3 linked regions of the Homo sapiens genome follow. The protein of the gene in region 3 interacts with the protein of the main gene of each other region in a pairwise test. Each region holds a gene or a part of one and is shown on either strand. Other genes may lie near its edges.

Region 1 (7,000 bases), on a different chromosome or scaffold from region 3:
CTCCCAAAGTGCTGGGATTACAGGTGTGAGCCACCACGCCCAGCAACTTACTCATCTTTACTCACTTAAACCATATTCTGTAAGGACAGGACAAATTTTCCTCCTATGAGAGAGTGGAAAAAAAAAATTCCAGTAACCATAAGATAATAATATTACCTTTATTTCTGCTTAGTGACAGTGCAATTTCAGAATTGTTATTCAAAGGACGGCGTTTTCCTTTCCCTACAAGCTCTGTATTTACAAAGGTTCCATTGCCACTGTGATCTTCTATGTATGCAATGTAAGAGTTTTTAGGACCCACTTCCTAAAATAGAGAACATTTTGTTTCAGACTTTGAATAGCAGAGATTTATAGTGGGAAAATATCTAAAAACAATGACCAAATTACCAGCTCTCCTAGATACATGGGTATTCATTACCTACCCTGAAAATCCGAAAGTGTTTCTTGCTGTATGTTCGGTATTTATCTGTTCTTTTCAGCAGTGGTTCATCAAAGCAATATTCACAGCTTTTGTCCCTCCCAAACCAGTAGTTGTCATTCACACATTCTGTAATATAAAAGCATGCATCAGAGGGCTGTTGAATTTCATGTATCAAACGTTTAAAAATTGCTCATAAATGCTAATTGTAGGAAAATAGCCTAAGAAGGCAATCAGAATTATCAATCTGCTTATCAAGATTTTACAAGATTAAAAATTAGGAGAGAAAAAACAACATTACCAATGAGTTTAACAAATGGCAGTTTATCTATAACCACATGGCCAGGCACAGTGGCTCACACCTGTAATCTCAGCCCTTTGGAAGGCTAAGGCAGGAGGATCACTTGACCCCAGGAGCTCATGACCAGCCTGGGCAACATAGGGGGCACCCATCTCTACCAAGAATTTAAAAATTAGTCTGGGCAACATGGTGAAACCCTATCTCTACAAAAAATAAAAAATCAGCAGGGTGTGGTGGTGGGTCCCTGTGGTCTCAGCTACTCAGGAGGCTGAGGTGGGAGGATCGCTTGAGCCCAGGAGGTCGAGGCTGCAGTGAGCTGAGACTGCGCCACTGCACACTAGCCTGGGCGACAGAGTGAGACCCAGTTTCAAAAAAAAAAAAATGGCCAGGTGTGGTGGCTCATGCCTGTAATCCCAGCACTTTGGGAGGCTGAGACGAATGGATCACGAGGTCAGGAGTTCAAGACCAGCCTGGCCAAGATGGTGAAACCCTGTCTCTACTAAAAAATACAAAAATTAGCTGGGCGTGGTGGCGGGTGCCTGTAATCCCAGTTACTCGGGAAGCTGAGGCAGAGAATTGCTTGAACCTGGGAGGTGGAGGATGCAGTGAGCCAAGATTGCGCCACTGCACTCCAGCCTGGACGACAAAGCAAGACTCTGTCTGAAAAAAAACAAAAAACAATTAACCAGATGTGGTGGTGCATGCCTGTAGTCCAGCTACTCAGGAGGCTGAAGGAGGAGGATCACTTGAGCAAGATAAGCTGATGCTACAATGGGCTGTGATCCTGCCACTGTACTCCAACCTGGGCAACAGAGCAAGACCCTGTCTCAAAAAAATAAATAAACAAATATTTAATATATATTATATATTTATTTTATATTTATTATATATAATATATATAATTTGTATTTATTATACATGTTATATAAATTTATTTTATAAGTTGTCTTAAATATAATTATATATTTATACACAATATAACATATATTATATATTTATAATATAGTAATTATATCTAAATATATAATAATATATAATATATATTATAATCTATTAATATATGTATTTATATACACAAACACACACATACACATACATATATATATAAAACCGTGAAATAACAAATAGTCATTAAAAGTTCTCGAGTAATTTTTAATGACTTGGAAAATTACTTGCAATACAGTAATTTCCTGCTTATTACCTTCCTGAGGTTTTCCATGACACTTAGCATAAAATCTGCACTCTTCCTCATGGCCTACTAGATGCTCAGGGTCTGGCGTCTGCCACCATTCCAGCCCCACCTCATACCCCTCTCCCCTTGCTCATGACACCCAGCACCACTGGCCTCCTTTCACTGCCCCCAAGAATGCTGGGTTCAATCTGCCTTGTGGTCTTAGCACTTCTTCCCCAACTACACAAATGGCTCATTCCACCTTGCCTTTTGTATAACAGATACTATCTACACAACACTATCTGCCTTTAGGACTCTACTATCATCTCCCACTCAGCTTTCTTTCTTTGAGATGGAGTCTCGCTCTGTCGCCCAGGCTGGAGTGCGGTGGCGCGATCTCGGCTCACTGCAACCTCCACCTCCCAGGTTCAAGCGATTCTCCTGCCTCAGCCTCCCGAGTGGCTGGGACTACAGGCACGTGCCACCATGCCCAGCTAATTTTTTGTAATTTTAGTAGAGACGGGGTTTCGCCATGTTAGACAGGATGGTCTCGATCTCCTGAACTTGTGATCCGCCCGCCTCGGCCTCCCAAAGTGCTGGGATAACAGGCATGCGCCACCACACCCGGCCTCCCGCTCAGCTTGTTATATAAACATTACTCACCTGTTATCATAATGTTATCCTGTTTTATATCTTTTTGGGTATGGGCCACGGCTGGAAATTACCTTGCTTATTTGTATATTTTCTCCCCACCTCCCTGCATTAGAACATAACCTCCAGGAGGGCAGCTGGAGACCTCTTGTTTAACAGTACAACTCCAGCACTTGGGATATTGCACATGGCAGGTAATTAAATGTTCATTGCAAGGCAGACTAGGGAAAATACTAGCAACTCCTATCAGGAAAAGGAATAATTTCCCTAATAAATGTTAGGTTCCTATAAATCAGTGAAAACGCTAAACAGTCCAGTAGAAAAATAGGTAAAGGATATGAAAAGATAATTTACAAGAAACAGAAATACAGCTGGCTCAAACATATGAAAGGTGGCCAAGCTAACCCAATATAAGAAAATTCAGAAATCAAAAACACATTAAGATTTCATGTTTTACCTATTAGATTGGCAAAAATCCAAAAGTTTCATATCACCCTGTGCTGGCAAGAGGTATGAAAAAGCGGGTACTCTCATACATTGCCATTGGGAATATAATTTATACACACATTGTCTATAATTGTCTAGGGAGGACAATTTAGCAAGATCTATCAAAATTACATATGGGCTGGGCACGATGGCTCACACCTGTAATCCCAGTACTTTGGGAGGCCAAGGAAGGAGGATCACTTGAGCCTGAAGGTCGAGGCTGCACTAAGCTGTGGTTGCACCACTCACTCCAGAGTGAGAGTGAGACCCTATCTCTAGAAAGAAAAAGAAAATTAACAAATCCAAATTTAGTTAGTTAAAAAGATCAACAAGTTGGCAAACCTTAGACAGACTGAACAAGAAAAAAAGAGACAAGACTCAAATTACTAAAATTAGAATGAGAGAGATAATTACTACTGATCTGACAGAAATAAAAATGATTTAAAAAGAATAATTGAACAATTGTGTGACAGTATTAGATGACATAGGTGAAATGGACAAACTCCTAGAAAGATACAAACTACCAAAACTAACACAAGAAGAAACAGAAAATCTGAATATACCCATAAGAAGTGAAAAGACTGAATGATAATCCTAGCACATTGGGAGGCCAAGGCAGGCGGATTGCTTGACTTCAGGAGATTGAGACCAGCCTGTGCAACATGGCAAAATCCCGTCTCTACTAAAAACAAAACAAAAAAAAATTTAGCCAGGTGTGGTGGCGCGCCCCTGTAGTCCCAGCTACTCTGGAGGCTGAGGCACAAGAATCGTTTGAACCTGTGAGGCAGAGGCTGCAGTGAGCCAATATTGTGCCACTGCACTCCAGCCTGGGTGACAGAGAGAGAGACTCTGTCTCCAAAAAAACAAAACAAAACAAAAGACTGAATGAGTAATCAAAATATCCCTACAAAGAAAAGTGCAGTCCCAGATTGCCTCACTTTAGCTTGAGCAACATAGGGACACCCCATCTCTATCAAAATAAAAAAATTAGCCACACATGGTGGCACATGCCTGAGGTCCCAGCTACTCAGGAGGCTGAGGTAGGAGTTGAGCCTGGGAGGTCAAGCCTGCAGTGAAACGTGATAGTGGGTAACACTCCAGCGTGGGTAAGAGTGAGACCCTGTCTCAAAAAAAAGAAAAAAGAAACACACGGCTGGCTTCATTTTAAATTCTATCAAATATGTAAAGAACTAATACCAATTATTCTCAAACTTTTCGAAGAAATTCGGAACGGAACACTGTCAACTCATCTATGAGGCCAGCATACCAAAACCAGACAGAGACATCACAGTAAAACCACAAACCAATATCCCTTGTGAATATAGATATAAAAATCCTCAACAAAACAGTAGCAAACTAAATCCAGCAACACATAAAAAAGATTACAAATGACCAAACAAGAATTAACCCAGGACGCCAGGCGCGGTGGCTCACATCTGTATTCCCAGCACTTTGGGAGGCCGAGGCGGGCGATCACGAGGTCAGGAGATGGAGACCATCCTGGCTAACACGGTGAAACCCCGTCTCTACTAAAAATACAAAAAATTAGCCGGGCGAGGTGGCGGGCGCCTGTAGTCCCAGCTACTCGGGAGGCTGAGGCAAGAGAATGGCGTGAACCCCAGGGGGCAGACCCTGCAGTGAGCCGAGATCACGCCACTGCACTCCAGCCTGGGCGACAGCGAGACTCCATCTCAAAAAAAAAAAAAAAAAAAAAAAAAGAATTAACCCAGGAAAGCTTGGTTGGTTTAACATCTGAAAACCAATTAATATAATACACGATAACAATAGAATATAGGAAAATAGACACAGAAAAAAATTTTGGCAAAATGCAACACCCTTTTATAACAAAAAATACTCAGAAAACTAGGAATAGGAGTAAACTCCTTCAACCTAATAAAGAGCTTTTATTTTATTTATTATCTATTTATTTTTAATTTAGAGGCAAAGTCTTGCTCTGTGGCCTGCAATCATAGCTTGCTGCAGTCTCCAACTCGTGGCCTTAAGCACTTCTCCTGCCATAGGCTCCCAAAGCACTGAGATTATAGGGTGAAAGAGTCAGAGCAACCAGCCAGAAAGCATTTTTTTTTTCTTTTGAGTCAGAGTCTCACTCTATCACCAACTAGCTGGAACTACAGGCTCCTGCCACCACGCCCGGCTAATTTTGTTTTTGTATTTTTAGTAGAGACGGGGTTTCACCATGTTGGCCAGGATGGTCTCGATCTCCTGACCTTGTGATCCGCCCACCTCAGCCTCCCAAAGTGCTTGGATTACAGGCATGAGCCACTGCACCCACCCCAGAAAGAACTTTTATGAAACATCCACAGCTTAGTCTTCAGATATCAGAGGAGAAAGGAGAGAGGAAGAGAGAAGAGGAGAGAGAAGAGGAAAGAAAAGAGGAGAGGAGAGGAGGGGAGGGGAGGAAAGGAAAGCGGAAGGGAAAGGAAAGGAAAGCGGAAGGGAAAGGAAAGCAGAAGGGAAAGGAAAGGAAAGGAAAAAAGAAAGGGGAAAGGGGAAAGGAAAAGGAAAAGGGAAAGAGAAAGGGAAAGGGAAAGACCCACAGCTAACATCATACTTAGACTGCAAACTGGCCGGGGATGGTGCCTCACACCTCTTATCCCAGCACTTTGGGAGGCTGAGGCAGGAGGATCAGATGACAGCAGGAGTTCAAGATCAGATTGGGTAACATGGCCAGACTCTGTCTCTACAAAAAATAAAAATAAAAAAGTTAGGCCAGCCACGGTGGCTCATGCCTGTAATCCCAGCACTTTGGGAGGCCGAGGCGGGTGGATCACCCGAGGGCAGGAGTTCGAGACCAGCCTGGCCAACATGGTGAAACCCCATCTCTACTAAAAATACAAAAATTAGCCAGGCATGGTGGCATAAGCATGTAATCCCAGCTACTTGGGAGGCTGAGGCAGGAGAATCGCTTGAAACCGGGAGGAGGAGGTTGCGGTGAGCCGAGATCATGACATTGCAATCCAGCCTGGTGACAGAGCAAGGCTCCGTCTCAATAAATAAATAAATAAAACTTAAAATGAATAAAGGACCTTAATTAAACATAAGAGCTAAAACTAGGCCAGGCACTGTGGCTTATGCCTGTAATCCTAACACTTTGGGAAGCCAAGATGGATGTATTGCTTGAGCTCAGGAGTTTGAGACCAGACTGCAACATGATGAAACCCCATCTCCACCAAGAATACAAAAAGTTAGCTGGGAGTGGTGGTGCACATCTGTGGTCCCAGCTACTCAGGAGGCTGAAGTGGGAGAATTGCTTGAGCCTGGGAGGCAGAGGCTGAAGTGAGCTGAGATTGTGCCACTGCACTCCAGCCTGGATGACAGAGTGAGATCCTGTCTCAAAATAAACAAACAAACAAACAAACAAAAATTTAAAAAAAGGAATTAAAACTGTAAAATTTTAAAAGAAAACATAGGTATAAATAATTAACAAATAATAATAATAAACAGCCTCGGCCAGACGTGGTGGCTCGCGCCTGTAATCCCACCACTTTGGGAGGCCAAGGCGGGCAGATCACCTGAGGTCAGGAGTTTGAAACCAGCCTGGCCAATATGATGACAACCCGTCCCTACTAAAAAATACAGAACTTAGCCACGGTGGTGGGCACCTGTAATCCCAGCTACTCAGGTGGCTGAGGCAGGAGAATGGCTTCAACCCAGGAGATTGAGGTTGCAGTGAGCCAAGATCGTACCACTGCACTCCAGCCTGGGTGACAGAGTGAGACTCCGTCTCAAATAATAATAATAATAATAATGATAAACAGTCTCTATTTATTCAGCACCTACTTTATGCTGGTCATCCTATCAGGATCTTTGTTTACTTGTCTTTTTTTGTTTTTCCTTTTTGTGGAGAATGGGGTCTCGCTATATTGCCCAGCAGGTCTCAAACTCCTGGGTTCAAGCTATCCTCCCACCTCTGCTGCTCTAAGAGCTGGGATTACAGTTGAGAGCCCCTGCA
Region 2 (7,000 bases), on a different chromosome or scaffold from region 3:
TTTCTAGAAGTCTTTTATGTTAAAGGTATGAGCCCTGCTCTCCTAACACTGACTAAGTTTTGACAAACCACAAGTTTGTGCATGAGTCATTCAAAGTCAAGGGACCCAACTGCCTGCGAAATGACCACCTGCCGATGATGCAGGTGTCTCGAGCTGCCCAAGTGCTCACGGGATCCCCTCCGGGCAGACTGTGTGTGACGTCTGTGCCAGGCAACGTACCCTCAGCGGGGTCTCTGAAGCTCTCCTCTTTCAGCTCCAAGGCAGGCTGCCCCTGCTGATGGGTGGGCACTGGCTCACTGCCTGGACAGCTTGTGGGAAGCGAGGTGCTGGCAGAGTTCAAGGCTCTCTCCTGGAGGAAAGGGCAGAGTCACCCTGTGCAGTGCAGTCAAGGTACTTGGGGTGTGGCTTTGCCTCCCCACAACCTTGTTGAAGTAGACTTGGGGGAGAGGGAGCGGGACATCCCACCCCGTCACCCAAGGCTGCTGGGGGCTTCCACTGCCTGCTACTCTTCTACACGACCAGGCCAGGAGCACAGGTACCCACACAAGCACCCCTTACCTTGCTCTCTGCTGTTGGGGTCTCGGCTGCCAACTGCACCACAGGCGTGTCCTCCGCTGAGGCTGAATGCAGCTGCCTGGGGAGACAGAGTCAGCAGAGGCCCATGCCCCCCACCCCATAACCCCGGCGTCCCCTGCTCCAGCACTGAGCTGCCATCGCCTTTCCCTGCACTGCTGTGCCGGCCACGTGAACATTCAGCTAGAGCGTGCCAGGCATGGGGCTGTCCCAAGCGACCTGGCCACAAAACTGCCTCACCAACCTCACCCAGCAGGAAAACACGCGCCTTGCCTGCCAGCTCTGGGAGAAGCAGGCTGGGAGCTCTAAAGTCAGCACGATGCAGCCAAAGGGAATCACAAGGATGAGTACATCCCTTTTACTGTGAAACTGACAAAAGGCTTCAAATGTGGAGGCTGGGGCAGGTGTGGGCAGCAAGCCACCCAGGGGCCAAGGCAAGACACCAAGGGCACAAGCTGTTCCAGTATCATAAATATACAGAATAAGAATAGTTATACTAGAAATAGATTATAGATATGATTATATATGAATATCGTTAATCATTAGTTTGTAGCTTTACTCTTTATTCTAATATTATAATAATCTTTGTTCTACAATAATAACCTAGGAAACGCCGGGTGCGGTGGCTCACGCATGTAATCCCAGCACTTTGGGAGGCCGAGGCGGTCGGATCACGAGGTCATATCTAGACCATCCTGGCTAACACGGTGAAACCCCGTCTCTACTAAAAAATACAAAAAAATTAGCCGGGCATGGTGGCGGGTGCCTGCAGTCCCAGCTACTCGGGAGGCTGAGGCAGGAGAATGGTGTGAACCCGGGAGGCAGAACTCGCAGTGAGGCGAGATCACGCCACTGCGCTCCAGCCTGGGTGACAGAGCGAGACTCTGTCTCAAAAAACAAACAAACAAACAAATAACCCTAGGAAAAACCAGGCCATATAGAGATAGGAGGTGAAGGCACACGGTGAGAAAGTGACCGGAAGAGGTGTGTGAGCCCTCTGTCACGCCCGGACAGGGCCACTGGAGGGCTCCCTGGTCTAGCGGTAACACCAGCACTTGGGAAGGCACCCGTTACCTAGCTTGGTCTAGCGGTAGCACCAGTGCCTGGGAAGGCACCCGTTAATTAGACTGGGAAAGGGAGTCTCCCTTTCCCTGGGGGAGTTAGAGAAGACTCTGCTCCACCATCTCTTGTGGAATCAGTCAGGCCCGCCCGCAGCCATCCAGAGGCCTGTGTCCCTGTGATGCTGTGCTTCAGCAGTCACGCTCCTGGTCCACTTTCATGATCCGCTCTGTACACCTGGCTCTGTCTTCTAGATAGCAGTAGCAGAATTAGTCAAAGTGCTAAAGTCTTTGAAATACATAGAAAAAATAATGGCGTCAGCTGTCCTCTCTCTCCGCCTTGGCTGCCAAACAGGGAAGGGCCCAGTGGACACGTGACTTGCGTGACCTGACCTATCATTGGAGATGGCTCACACTCCTTAACCTGTCCCCTTGCCTTGTATCCAATAAGTAACAGCGCAGCCAGACATTCGGGGCCATTACCGATCTCCGTGCCTTGGTGGTAGTGGTCCCCCGGGCCCAGCTGTCTTTTCTTCTGTCTTTTTCTTGTGTCTTTATTTGTACAATCTCTTGTCTATGCACACGAGGAGAAAAAACCCACAGACCCAGTAGGGCTGGACCCTACAGGCAGGACAATCTCCCACTGAGCAACTCTAGGAGATGTAGCCTAAGACCATTCAGCCAGGAGGCAGCAGACCCACGGCCAAGACCCCAGCAAGCAGCGGACGCCACCCAGGCAGTAACAGGCTTTGCCTGGCTTTTGGAGTTACACACCCAAGTCAAGTTCACCTGAGGAGGAACATGACTGGGGGACAGGGTCCTGCCCAGGGTTGGTTGCATTTGGCTTCTGGCCTGAGCCCGCCCTTATTGGATCCCTCCTTAGGCCAGGAGCACTAAAGAGATGCATGGCAGCCAAGGCAAGGCCAAGCACCCTCAGCTGGGAGCCACCTGAGCCCTGTTTTTATCCAGAGGCCCCTCCTCAGGCAGAACCTACCCGGCCTCAAAGGAGTATCTGATGACACTTCTGGCCTCGGGTCCTGGACCACATACACTGCAGGGCAGCTGCCCCACGCCACGCTCCCCATCCCATCCTCACACTTACTGGCTCAGACAGGGACCTGGCTCCTCCGTGGCAGGCCCAGCATGCAACTGTTCAGCCGCTGGCTGGCCCAGCCTGGTCTCAGGGCTTTCTGGGGGCTGGGCCTCACTGCAACCAGACTTGGTGTCACCTCCGAACGGGATGAAGTTTGGGTCATCCATTTTGTCCCAGTCGAGGTGGTAAGAGCCCCGAGAAGCTGGCATGGGGGGGTCCTCTCCTGCTCCGCTCCTACCGTCGTCCTCCTCCACCTCCTGCGGGGCCTTTTGCTGCCTCACTGCTGCTTTCCTCAAGGGAGGCTTGAGGCCGGACCTCTCTCCCAGTCTCCTTGGTGGGGGTGCCCTTTTGCTGGTGGCGCCATCAGATACATCAAATTCTAGTTTTACAGGTCCGCTCCTCGAGGAGCTGGCCATTTGGCCTGCAGCCACTTCTTCCTGAGGACTCAGGGTCATGGCCCTGCCAGCCACCAGGTGGTTGGTTGGGGCTGTGCTCTCAGGAGCAGAGGTGTGTGCACAGGTAAGGGTCTGAGTGCCATCTGCTGGCACGGGGGTGCCCACACCCGCAGGGCAGCCCAGGGCTTCGCCAGGCAGACCCTGCAGGGGTGCTCCTCCGCAGGCTTCCTTAGGGATTGCACCAGGAGGCGAAGTGGCCACTGCTGCGGGAGCACAGACCCCACCGTGCCGGCATTCCTCCTCGGCTCCGTGCGGAGTCTCCGCTTTGCATTCTTCCTCGGCTCCGTGCGGAGTCTCCGCTTTGTGCTGGGACTCTGTCCTGCAAGGGTCTTCTAGGGTCTCAGAGGCGGGTGTCACTCTTCTGTCTAAGGAATAGGAACTAAGGTTTTCCTCCACGGCTTGCTCAGGGCTGCCAGACACTTTTCCTGGAGACACCATTTGGTTCTCAGAACTTCCTGGGCTCTGGGAAGAGCTTGAGCAGTCCAGGTCAGCCAGGGCACCTGGGCCAGACTCGCTGGAGCTGCCACTCCCAAAGGCTGGGCTTGCATCCCCCAGGAGGTCGGTGTCAGCCTCCACTGGTTTCTGTAGAATTCCATGAGTAGTTTTGGCATCCACTTCCTTGATGAGCTGTTGGCTTTTAAAAGAGACTTAATCAACGTGAAGCAGCGAGTACCTGGTGAGGTTAGGGGCCTCAGCATTCATTCTCAACATAGGTTTAACATTCTCACACCAGAAGCAGGGCTGAGTCACCCTTGGCACGGCTTCCCGTTCTCCACCCCCCACCTCAGTTCCTCAATGTAGTTCCTTCCTGTCCTCCCAGGGACCAGCTCCCGGTGGAACGGCTGGACACAACCACGTGACTTCCTCGCTGACCCCGCCCTCATGCTTCTTGGGGTTCCAAGTTACAGGGGTGCCTCTGGGCTGCTTGCCTGTTTAATTGTGCTCATCACGCGCTTTGCCAGGTGCTGGACCCAGACTCCTCCAGCAGCCTCTGCCACCCAAACAGCACTCGTCATCATGCACGAGGTCTGCCCCCAGGCCCACAGCATGCACACAGCACAGGCTGCTGCCTGGGGGGTCAGATGTGGGACAGCACACCCAAATGCCTCAAGCTGATGCCAGAGAAAGAAGCCTGGAGGCATCTCTCCCACCTGGTAGACTGGGCTCCTCAATTTCCCACCACTTCCTTTATTTTTATGTTTTTTTTTTTTGAGACGGATTTTTGCTCTGTTGCCAAGGCTGGAGTGTAATGGCATGATCTCGGCTCACTGCAACCTCCACCTCTGGGGTTCAAGCGATTCTCCTGCCTCAGCCTCCCAAGTAGCTGGGATTACAGGTGCCCGCCACCATGTCTGGCTAATTTTGTTTTGTATTTTTAGTAGAGACAGGTTTTCATCATGTTGGTCAGCCTGGTCTCAAACTCCTGACCTTAGGTGATCCACCCGCCTCGGCCTCCCAGTGCTAGGATTACAGGCAGGAGCCACCGCACCCGGCATCCACCATTTCCTGTAAAAAATCCATTCGAGCACCTGCCCACCAGCATACAGTGACCCCACCCTACTCCCCGATAGACAAGGCTGGCTGCCACCCTCTCAGCTGTCCCCTGCCTATGCTCCAGGGCCTGGCCCCAGTCCTCTGTGTGGCCTCCAGCCTGCTGTGGGCCTGTAAGTCATATAATCATTATTTCCGCCTGTGTTTCTCCTAATCACTGAAGGGTGTGCACCACTTAATGACCCTGAATTCTAACATTAAGGGACCTGACAGCATTCCGATAACACTTTAATCTGCGTGAAAACATCAGCTACAAGCAAAACAAGAAAGCTCAGTCAACATTGTCCTGTGGCTTAAACCTCACCCGAGGACATGCCCAACAGATCAGTCCTGGGGACTTGCAGGCCCCAGGATGGCCAGCAGGGGGCGTGGTAAACAAAGGTTTTCTGCATGAATCTGCTTTCCCCTTCAAGTCGGGGACTGGCAGTGCTGTGGCCAGGGACAGTCAAAGCCTTCACTGAAGGGCAGGGCTGAGGTGCAGGATGCCACCTGCAGGCACAGAAGGACCTGAGTGGCCTCTGCGACGCCTCCCTGGGATGGCGCCTGCTACAGTGGAGTGGCACAGGTGCAGAGAACACCTTCCCAGGGACCCACCTGTCTCTGGGGCACTCGCTGCTCACAATGTGGGACTGCATGGCGCAGGGCCCCTGACAGAAGAGGCGGCTGTTGGGATGGTTGGGGCTGGACTACAACACAGAGGGCACAAACACTGTTTCACCTGTTCCCCAGCCTTCAGGTCCCTGAGAAGACGCAGGGTCATGTGCCAGTGCCTCAGATAAGGGGCCCATGTCACCTGCCCTTCTCTTCCAACTCTAAGTTTGAAGATGTCAAAACTGAGAAACTGAGGGTGAGGGACCTGTCAGACTGCTCACAACTCCTCTGCTGCCCAGCTGCCACCTTGGGGCGGCACTGCCTTCCCAGGCGGCCACTCGGCTGTCCTCTGAATGACACGTGGGCAGCTGCACGCAGCGGCTGCTCTTGGTCTCATCCCACTGACGTGGGAGCACCACAGTGACCACCACCTGGGCCTCAGCAGAGTTCCAGAAAGGAGATGACAGCCACGAGTCCAAGCCACAAGCTCAGAGTCACTCTGGCTGGAGCCCCTCAGGGCCAACCTCTCAAGCCCCTCCCAGCTCCTCTACACCCTCTGCCCTATGGAGGCTGCTGGGTGATCCTGGAGGCATAGGGGAGAGGCAGGGGATCTGTGGCTCTGGGACGGATCACACCCATGGCAGCTGGGAGGCGACTTCTCTGCTGCTGGGTCTCCCTTCCTTCTTGGGGTCGTTGTAAACCAATGTTTGATTCATTCTCGCTTCGTTTGACCAAATTTCAAAAGGGGCAAAAAACAAAGTTGAAAAGTAGCAAGCAGACATGGGAAGAACTGCAAATTCAGGCTGGAGGGGTAGAGGGGAGACGGACCCAGGGCCCAGAGAAGGATGTAGGAAATGCTGCCTGCACTTACTGGTGACATTTTATCTCAGGGGGTGAGAAGCATCAGTGGTATTCTGTTCCTTATGCTTTTCTCTGCACATCTAAAATCTGCTTAAAAGTTTTGGGCCAGCCGGGCGTGGTGGCTCATGCCTGTAATCCCAGCACTTTGGGAGGCCGAGGCCGGCAGATCACCTGAGGTCGGGAGTTCAAGACCAGCCTGACCAACACGGATAAACCCCATATTTACTAAAAATACACAAAATTAGCCAGGTGTGGTGGCGCATGCCTGTAATCCCAGCTACTCGGAGGCTGAGGCAGGAGAATCGTTTGAACCTGGGAGGCGGAGGTTGTGGTGAGTTAAGATCGCACCATTGCACTCCAGCCTGAGCAACAAGAATGAAACTCCGTGTAAAAAAAAAAAAAAAAAAAAAATTGGCCGGGCATGGTGGCTCACAGTTGTAGTCCCAGCTACTAAGGAGGCCAAGGTGGAGGACTGCTTGAGCCCAGGAGGTTGAGGCTGCAGTGAGCTGTGATGGCACCACGGCACTCCAGCCTGGGTGACAGAGCGAAACTCTGTCTCAAAACAACAGCAACAACAGTTACATCAGCAAAAAACCAACAGAAAATCATGCCTCTGGGGTCCCTTCCCACCCTGGATGCAGATGAGGTGTTCCTGGGTGCCCAGACAGATTAGTTCAGCCGCAGAGTAAAGAGCTGCCACCAGGATCCTCCCTTTCTAGGCAAAGACAGACACCGCCTCGCCATCCACTTGCAGTTAAGAATCAGGTCGGCTAAAAAATTAGCCGGGAGTGGTGGCGGCGGGCGCCTGTAGCCCCAGC
Region 3 (7,977 bases):
AAACTGTGTATCCTTGGCCAGGTATAGCAGCTCACGCTGTAATCCTAGCACCTTGGGAAGCCAAGGCAGGCCGATCACTTGAGGCCAGGAGTTCAAGACCAGCCTGAATAACAAAGCAAGAATCATATGCTCTTATCACATATTCTCATATCATATATTCTGAAATACTATGTTAGGGGCACTTCTGAAGCTTAAAAACCAAAATGTACACTACTATTTACAAAGCAGGTAGGTAAATCCATAGAACTTATTACACCAAGTTCGTATGTTTAAAATTAGAGTTGCAAATACTATAGCTGAAATCCAAATGTAATTAAATGAAACCAGATACTCTCAGGATATATACCACCCATCAAAGAGAGTTATCAGGAAGAAAAATATGCTTTCTCATATCACCTCTTGGCATTACTCTTAGTATCAATACAGAACAGGTTGGTCATATGGTGGTTTTCATGGTTTTCAAGCTAGGCTTGCCCATCAGAATCACTTGTGGAACTTTTAAAATAGACATTTCCCTAGGACCTATCTCATACCTACTTAATAAGAACCTCCATGGGCAAAGCCAAAAATAAGAATATGCTCAGAAAACTCCCAAGGTTATTCTGATTCATAACCTGAGTTAAGAAGTAGAGACTGAATTTTAGTCCTCTCAATATCCTAAGCACTGAGGACAGGGCTAGAATACAATAAAATTCAATAAATGTTTAGTGAATTTATAAACAAGCCCATAAATGCAATTCTTTTGAATCAAAGACCAAACAAACAGACAGTACTGCCCTGGCAGGTTAGACAGTGCCGCCCTGGCAGGGTTAGACAGTGCCGCTCTGGCAGGTTAGACAGTGCCGCCCTGGCAGGTTAGACAGTTCCGCTCTGGCAGGGTTGGACAGTACTGCAGTGGCAGGGTTAGACAGTGCCACCCTGGCAGGGTTAGACAGTGCTGCCTTGGCAGGTTAGACAGTGCCGCCCTGGCAGAGTTAGACAGTGCCGCTCTGGCAGGTTAGACAGTGCCGCTCTGGCAGGTTAGACAGTGCCGCCCTGGCAGGGTTAGACAGTGCCGCCCTGGAAGGGTTAGACAGTGCCGCCCTGGAAGGGTTAGACAGTGCCGCCCTGGCACGGTTAGACAGTACTGCCGTGGCAGGTTAGACAGTGCCGCTCTGGCAGGGTTAGATGAATTTATAGACCTTACTCTATAAGGCCTATACTTGCTCTAGAAGGCCTTACCTTACTCTAGAAGGCCTATCATATCATAGGGGATTTTGTAAAACACAACACAACTCCAAACCTCCAAATAATGAATTACCCTAAATATAAAAGACTGTATAGTGTTATTGAGGAATGGCGTGGTAGAAATTCCACAGGGAATGGGGAAGTAGAAACTACTGTATTGATGATGTCCTAGGAATTTGAGGAATGTCAATTTTCAGTCTAAGTCAGGGGGATGAACTTTCAAACAAGTTACAACTGATGCTATAATTCATACTTTATACATCTTTATCTCTTAGAAAGTTCAGCTTACCAATGGCAATTGCCTTTTGTGTTACAAATAATGGCATGGCTATTTGTAATGTTTCTACTTTTTAACTTAAACCCGACCTTAAAATGCATGCCATTAAATAGTAATTTTAAAGTCGTTTGATATACTACTCATTTTATTCCCTTTTTAAATAAAACAATTGTTTCACTTGATATTCATTTATGAAATCAAGTTTAACATAGTCTATGCACATGGCATATTAATTACCATATTACTAAAATTTAACAATACCTTCTAACTATTCAATTAGAGCCCAAGGAGAAAGAAGCATATGTGCACACACAAAGCACCATTATTTTATATTAGGTGACAGGGAGGTTCACATCCATTCATTCCCCATTGACTAAACATCTGCTAGATGCCAGATGCAGTGCTAGAAACTAGAGAAACAAAGAAGAGTGAGCCAAACTACTGAACCAAGACACAGTTTAGCTGGGGACATGCAAGTAGATGTAAGATATTAATACAAAAGTACAAAAGTCTGAGAGGACATAAAACACATTGTTTAGAATGGTTATCTTTTGAGAAATGAGAATGGGGAAACTTTTGTAGTCTACTTATTTGTATTTCTGACTTGTATATTTTTAAACAAGTATCTGTTTTCCTTATAATAAAATACAGAAATGCATAATCTAATGGAAAAGCAAAAGAAACCCGTGACCAAATTTTCACAGGCCTTCTACAAGCTGCTTAATTCTGTTGACAACTTAGCCCAATTACCCTTAAAAGCAAAATTACAGAATAATACAATTCTTATATGCTCATCCAATGGTTCAACCTCCATTACATTCAACTTATTTCCTTCAGAAATGAAAGGTTAAACATCTTAATGATAAGCAGGGAAATTAAGATATTACAACTAGACCATGATTATTATTGAAAACATGAAATCAAGGCATTTTTTTTGCATTTGAGCAAGGTATTTATGCCACAAATGACTAAAGATGTAACCTAGCTACACAAATACTTTACTGTACAAATTTAAATTTTTGCATTAACTCTGAGTAACACAATTATCCCAAATAATTATTTTATTTCAAATACTCTTTCATCCATAGAATATTTTCTAATAATCCTTTTAACCATACAGATCATCTGTCAACTCTAAAACCTGCACCAACTCTTTTTAAAAACATTAGCGATAATGAAAAATAAGTTAAGTAAAAATTAACTTTTTCAAGTCAAAATTCTGTAACTAATAATTAAATAATATAGTTGTTATTTAAAATAAAGTATTATCACTATAAATCAATAGCCTACATACACGATAAACAGATCCAGATATTAGAGCTGTTTATTAAATAATAAAGTTAATTCTGCTATTTACAAAACTGTCATTAATAGAGTATATCAGTATAGAGCTGATAAACTCTTTCCTCAGCTTATTAAAGGACTGTCATGTGGCTCAAAATGAGAAGCACTGATAAAAGATTAATATGCCATAATGAAGACATTACCAGTAACACTGAAGGTTAGAATTTCTAAAAATTTAATTAAAATATATAGTCCAGGCACAGTGGCTCATGCCTGTAATCCTAACACTTTGGGAGGCCAGAAGAGAGGATCTCTTGAGGCCAAGTTTGAGACCAGCCTGGGCAACATAGCAAGACTTCCTCTCTACAAAAAGGTTAAAATATTAGCCAGGTGTGGTAGTACGTGCCTATAGTCCTAGCTATTCGGAAGCTGAGGCAGAAAGATTGCTTGAGTTCGAGGATTCAATGGGCTATGATGGTGCCACTGTGTTCCAGCCTGGGTGACACAGTGAAACCTTATCTCTTAAAAAGTAAATAATAAATAAATAAAAATAAATATGTAAGCTTGCAAACTACAAATTAGCATGCAAAAATGAATTCTTATTCCTCCTCCACTACTCCCGGCCTCCAGGGTCTTGCCTCACCTCCACTGTTTAGCTTCCGGGATAAGAGCTCCACTTTTTCTTGCAATTTATCATAAACAGTCACAATCTGGGACACGGCTCGGCGGGAAGACTCCACACGTTCCTGCAGCTGAGACTCCATCTCTTCACTGGAACTGCTGGCCAAAGTAGCAAGGAAAGAGAAAGCTGGCTCTTGCCCTTCCCCTGAGGACACAGGGGGAAAAAAAGAAGCCCCCCAAAATTATAAACTGGAAATAACAAAATCCATTTTTTTTCCCTCAAATGGAAAGCCTCAAAGCAGAGCTCTACTTTAAAAACCCAGATAGCATGCAGTGATAGAATCCATCACGAACACTTGCCTCTCTCTCGGTCATCTTTACGCTCCTGATTGCTATCAGAGTCTGGTTCTGGTTCAGGCACAACAAGGGCTTTTCGTTCTGTGAGTAGGTCTCCCAAGCCCTGCTCCAGATCATAACGTTTAAGGATGATACGGATGTTTTCATCAAACTGGAGAAGGGTAGGTACAATTATGAAGAAACAAAGGACACAACTTTGGAAATGAAGAGAACAGTAAGGAGAACTAAATTGGTCAAATAAAAATCTGAACAAATAAACAAGTTAGCTACCTGACTCCAGTATCGGTTGACAATCAATAGTGAGGCATCATCAGTGGCCTGTCGTCGTTCCAGTTTTTCAATGTGCTCACGAAGTTCATCTTCAATGGCCTGCCGCTGATCCAACATTTCTGCCAGCTTGCGATTTTTGGTTTGCAGTGTTCTAATGTCTAGTTCCTCCTGCCCAGTAAACCAATCGTATTAGTCTCCACAAAGAAATAAGAAAAATGAGCCGTTAAACTCAACAAGGTCACAATTATTCATTAGTTATTTTCTATGAATAAAGCTATTGACTTTTAAAAAATCTTACAAGTAATTAAGAAGTAGAAGCAGAAGAGATAAACAACAGGTATATGATGGTGTGAGGAAAGAATAATACACACAAATACACCAGAACCTCAACCCATCTCGCTGTTCTAGTCACATAAACATCTACAAAGTAATGCTGCTTTAAGGCCACCATCCAGCTAGATCACCCTCGACTCCAATCAACACTGTCTTCTATCTCGTAAGCACCATCCTTCCTTCATTAAAGACTTCAGCACCTGGGTCCCTGTCTATCCCAGTTCCTGCCAATATATCTGGTGACTTCACCATACATGTGGACAAACCATCTAATCCTCTAGCATCTAGGCTGTCAGTTTTTCCAGTTCCTTCACTCCAAACATTATCTCCTCCACTGTGCTTCAGCCATGCACTTCAAAAGACACATCTCAGACTTTTGTCATTATCTGGAACTGTACCACATCTGAAATCTTATATTCCAACTTCCCATTCCCTGAAAAACACCACGTCTTTCCAGGTATCTCATGCCCTTAACCCAATATACCAATCCCTTTACCTCATCAAGATCTCCAGAATGTTGAATTCTTTTCTTTCTCCTTTTCGGTCTCCTTCTATCTCTGCTACCTTCCATATCTTAATCATATGCTATATAGTACATTCCTTCAAACACCTGCCTAACAGCCTCCTTGGTTCTCTGCCCTTAATCCTTTTATTCTATCTCTGTCAACAAACCCCAATCTGAATTAATCCAGTTATCTGGCTATTCCATTCCTGTACCCAGTATGCTGAGACTTCTAGAGAAGTTCATCAAACCACCGAAACCGGTGCCTTTACAAAATGAATTCTTAGCCTAAACAGATTTTATAATTTGTCTAGAAATATTTCTTTATCAAGTGAGCTATTTCCCATTCTCCAGCAAGGCAACATCAACCTCTACCAAACCCTGCCCCCTTTTACATCATACAAAACAGATGGCTTTACTTCCTATTTTAATGAGAAAATAGAAGCCATCAGATGGAAAACAATTCCCCATCTCTTTGACCCATTAACACAATTATGCACACATTCTTAAAACCTCAGCTTGTGCTCAGGATCCTGTTCTCTTCTGTCTCTACAAAACCCTCACTCCATTAGTAATTTCACATCCCTCTCAATATTTTTCTCTCTCCAGCTCCTTCCCTAGGACAAACCAGGGAGGGGTTGGTGGGAGGTGGGATTGGAGGATATAACAAGCAAAGAACCAGCATGTGGAAAAATAGTCTTACTTTTCTGAGGAATTAATGAAATCATTATTTTAAAGTGACAATTGTTTATTACACCACCAATTTTTGTTTCATTTTTCTCTTTTCCACTTTAATTAAAACATTCCTAATATGCCAAAGTAGTCAACAGTTTTCCCACTGTACCAGTTTATTAACACTATTAATAAACTATATCCTCAAACTCTTCTCTGAACATTGCCTTTCCCTTCTTGCTCTAACTGAAACTTGGATGAGAAACTGTTTCCCTGCAGGCTTCTCTAGTGGTGGCTGTTTCTCTTCCACACCCCTTGAAGCCAGAGAGGGATGAATATCCTCCTTATTTTCCATTGCCACTTCCAGGCCATTACCCCACCTTCCTCCCTAAAACCTCCTACCTCTGCAGCTCATGCCATTAGCCTATACCACCTGCCGCCATGCTCTGTTGAATTCATCTGTAAATGCCCACGTCGTTTCCTCACATTTCACAAAGACTTAGCACCTACCTTATTATCACTCTCCAATACTTTTCCTGTCATCATTCTTAATGATTTCAATACCCATACAGATAACCTTTCCTATACTTGAATCATCAAGTCACTGACCTCCTCTTCACCAATGATCTTGTCTTCTACCTCCTTCAGCCACCAACTCCCACATTTAGTCTTACTTGTACCTACATGTCCTCTATAAGCTCAATTTCAAACACCTCATTCTTCACAACTACCACTATTTTTCCAGCTCACTCTCTCCAGTTTCCTTACTCCAAAAATTCTTTAACCTCTCCAGGATCTACAATCCATTGGTCCTATACCTTTCACTTCTCTCACCTCCTTCTTTACTGAACTTAAATTCCATGATCAGTCATTATATAGTCATCTACTTTACAGCGATACTCCTTTATAAAGCATTGTCTCTACTCTCTTTTTCCTAATTCCTCTCCCCTCATATTCTCTTAAGCTCACTGAAAACAGGGTGCCATCCCCACTATTTCACCAACAAAGGTGTTTTGGTATCTCCAGTGAACTATTATTAAATATAACACCTCAGTCCTCCCTTTATTCCCCTTGTTCCAACTGAAACCTGAATGAGAACACATCAGCAGCACCTAATCAGCTCCTTCTTGAAATACTTTCTTCATTGAGCTTCTGGGAACCCATTCTCTCTTCCTATCCTCTTACCTCATTGGTCCCTCTTTGTTTGTATCTTTGATTAGTCCTTTCTCATTCCTTGACATGAAAATATTGTAGTGCCCCAGCAGACCTCTTTATGCTTATTCATTAAAGGAGTCTGTAGTCTCATAGATGTAAACACAACTTACAAAATGACGATTCCCAAATATACAGCTTTAGCCCAGACCTCTCTCTAGTATCCAGCTTATTAACTACCTATCCATTCAGAGGTCAAATAAGTATCTCAAACTTATATGTCCCAAACCAAACCAAACTCAATTCATCCTCCATGACTCCCAAAAATCTGCTCCTCTCATACACTTCTCTAGCTCAGTAAGTAAAAATTCCATTACTTTCAAAATCCTGGGATGATCCTCCCTCCTATCTTTCATGTGAGTTATCCAATCCATCAGCAGATCTTATCAATGCTACCTCCACAGTGGTCCAAGCCACCATGATTTCTCATTAAGATTACTGCAAAGGCCTCCTATAGCAAAAACTCTGTGCTAAGTCCTGTCAGCCTGCCAGATTTCAGCACAGCTGTGGTGGACAGCTCCATTTACACTGCCATTGTTCCCACTTCAAGCACACTTTGGAGACTCAGTTTTTCTGTCCCGCAATCACAGCTGGCTCCTAACAGCAATCTCAAAATGCACAGGAGGGACTGCTTTCAATGGCAACCTTCAACCAATTGGAGCGGGGATCAGTGGATACATGCCTCAGATCCCCACCTTTGGAGAGATGCAGTTATAGCGAAAGAGAGTAAGAAGAAGAAAAGAAAAAAGTCTGCTAGCTGGACTCTTGTTTATAATCCTTGCTTTTCTATAGTCTCCAAACACAAGTCAGAGCATGTTAGTCTCCTACTTAAGACTATCCACTAACTCCTCATTGCCTCTGGATAAAGTCCACACTGGGGTGTGTGCTATGTGCTTCCCATAAGTATGTGCTTATCCCTGTCAACAGCACATACCCCACTCTAAACAGTCTATTCCCTTGTCAGTGCTACCCTACAAACTAAAGTCTAGGGGCTGTCTTCAGTGTAAAGGATAGTGTCTGGCAAATAACAAATACTCAACAAATATTTATATATTGAGTGAATAAATGCCTTTGGAATGCATGATGCAAGGCAGTGCTAAAACAAAAATCACTTCCTGCCAGCAATATTAAGTACCAGAACCTCAGGCAGCCTCAGAAATGACACTTCATCAACAACTCACTATGAATGTTCCTATTATTCTGACTCAAAAAAAAAAATCAG

The links. The genes of interacting proteins can lie anywhere in the genome.
Region 1: the proteins of RNF20 (region 3) and CHEK2 interact in binary tests that used the Homo sapiens proteins (3 or more experiments, as listed by UniProt).
Region 2: the proteins of RNF20 (region 3) and TACC3 interact in binary tests that used the Homo sapiens proteins (3 or more experiments, as listed by UniProt).

The regions. Positions count from the first base shown.
Region 1 is NC_000022.11:28,724,821-28,731,820, forward strand, and holds part of CHEK2 (serine/threonine-protein kinase Chk2), read right to left. Parts: intron 5,729-7,000; coding exon of another isoform or gene 5,600-5,728; intron 548-5,599; coding exon 423-547; intron 305-422; coding exon 157-304; intron 104-156; coding exon of another isoform or gene 66-103; intron 1-65. UniProt on the Homo sapiens protein: Serine/threonine-protein kinase which is required for checkpoint-mediated cell cycle arrest, activation of DNA repair and apoptosis in response to the presence of DNA double-strand breaks.
Region 2 is NC_000004.12:1,724,521-1,731,520, reverse strand, and holds part of TACC3 (transforming acidic coiled-coil-containing protein 3), read right to left. Parts: intron 3,814-7,000; coding exon 2,734-3,813; intron 635-2,733; coding exon 559-634; intron 350-558; coding exon 220-349; intron 1-219. UniProt on the Homo sapiens protein: Plays a role in the microtubule-dependent coupling of the nucleus and the centrosome. Involved in the processes that regulate centrosome-mediated interkinetic nuclear migration (INM) of neural progenitors.
Region 3 is NC_000009.12:101,536,430-101,544,406, reverse strand, and holds part of RNF20 (E3 ubiquitin-protein ligase BRE1A), read right to left. Parts: intron 4,205-7,977; coding exon 4,037-4,204; intron 3,918-4,036; coding exon 3,770-3,917; intron 3,615-3,769; coding exon 3,432-3,614; intron 1-3,431. UniProt on the Homo sapiens protein: Component of the RNF20/40 E3 ubiquitin-protein ligase complex that mediates monoubiquitination of 'Lys-120' of histone H2B (H2BK120ub1).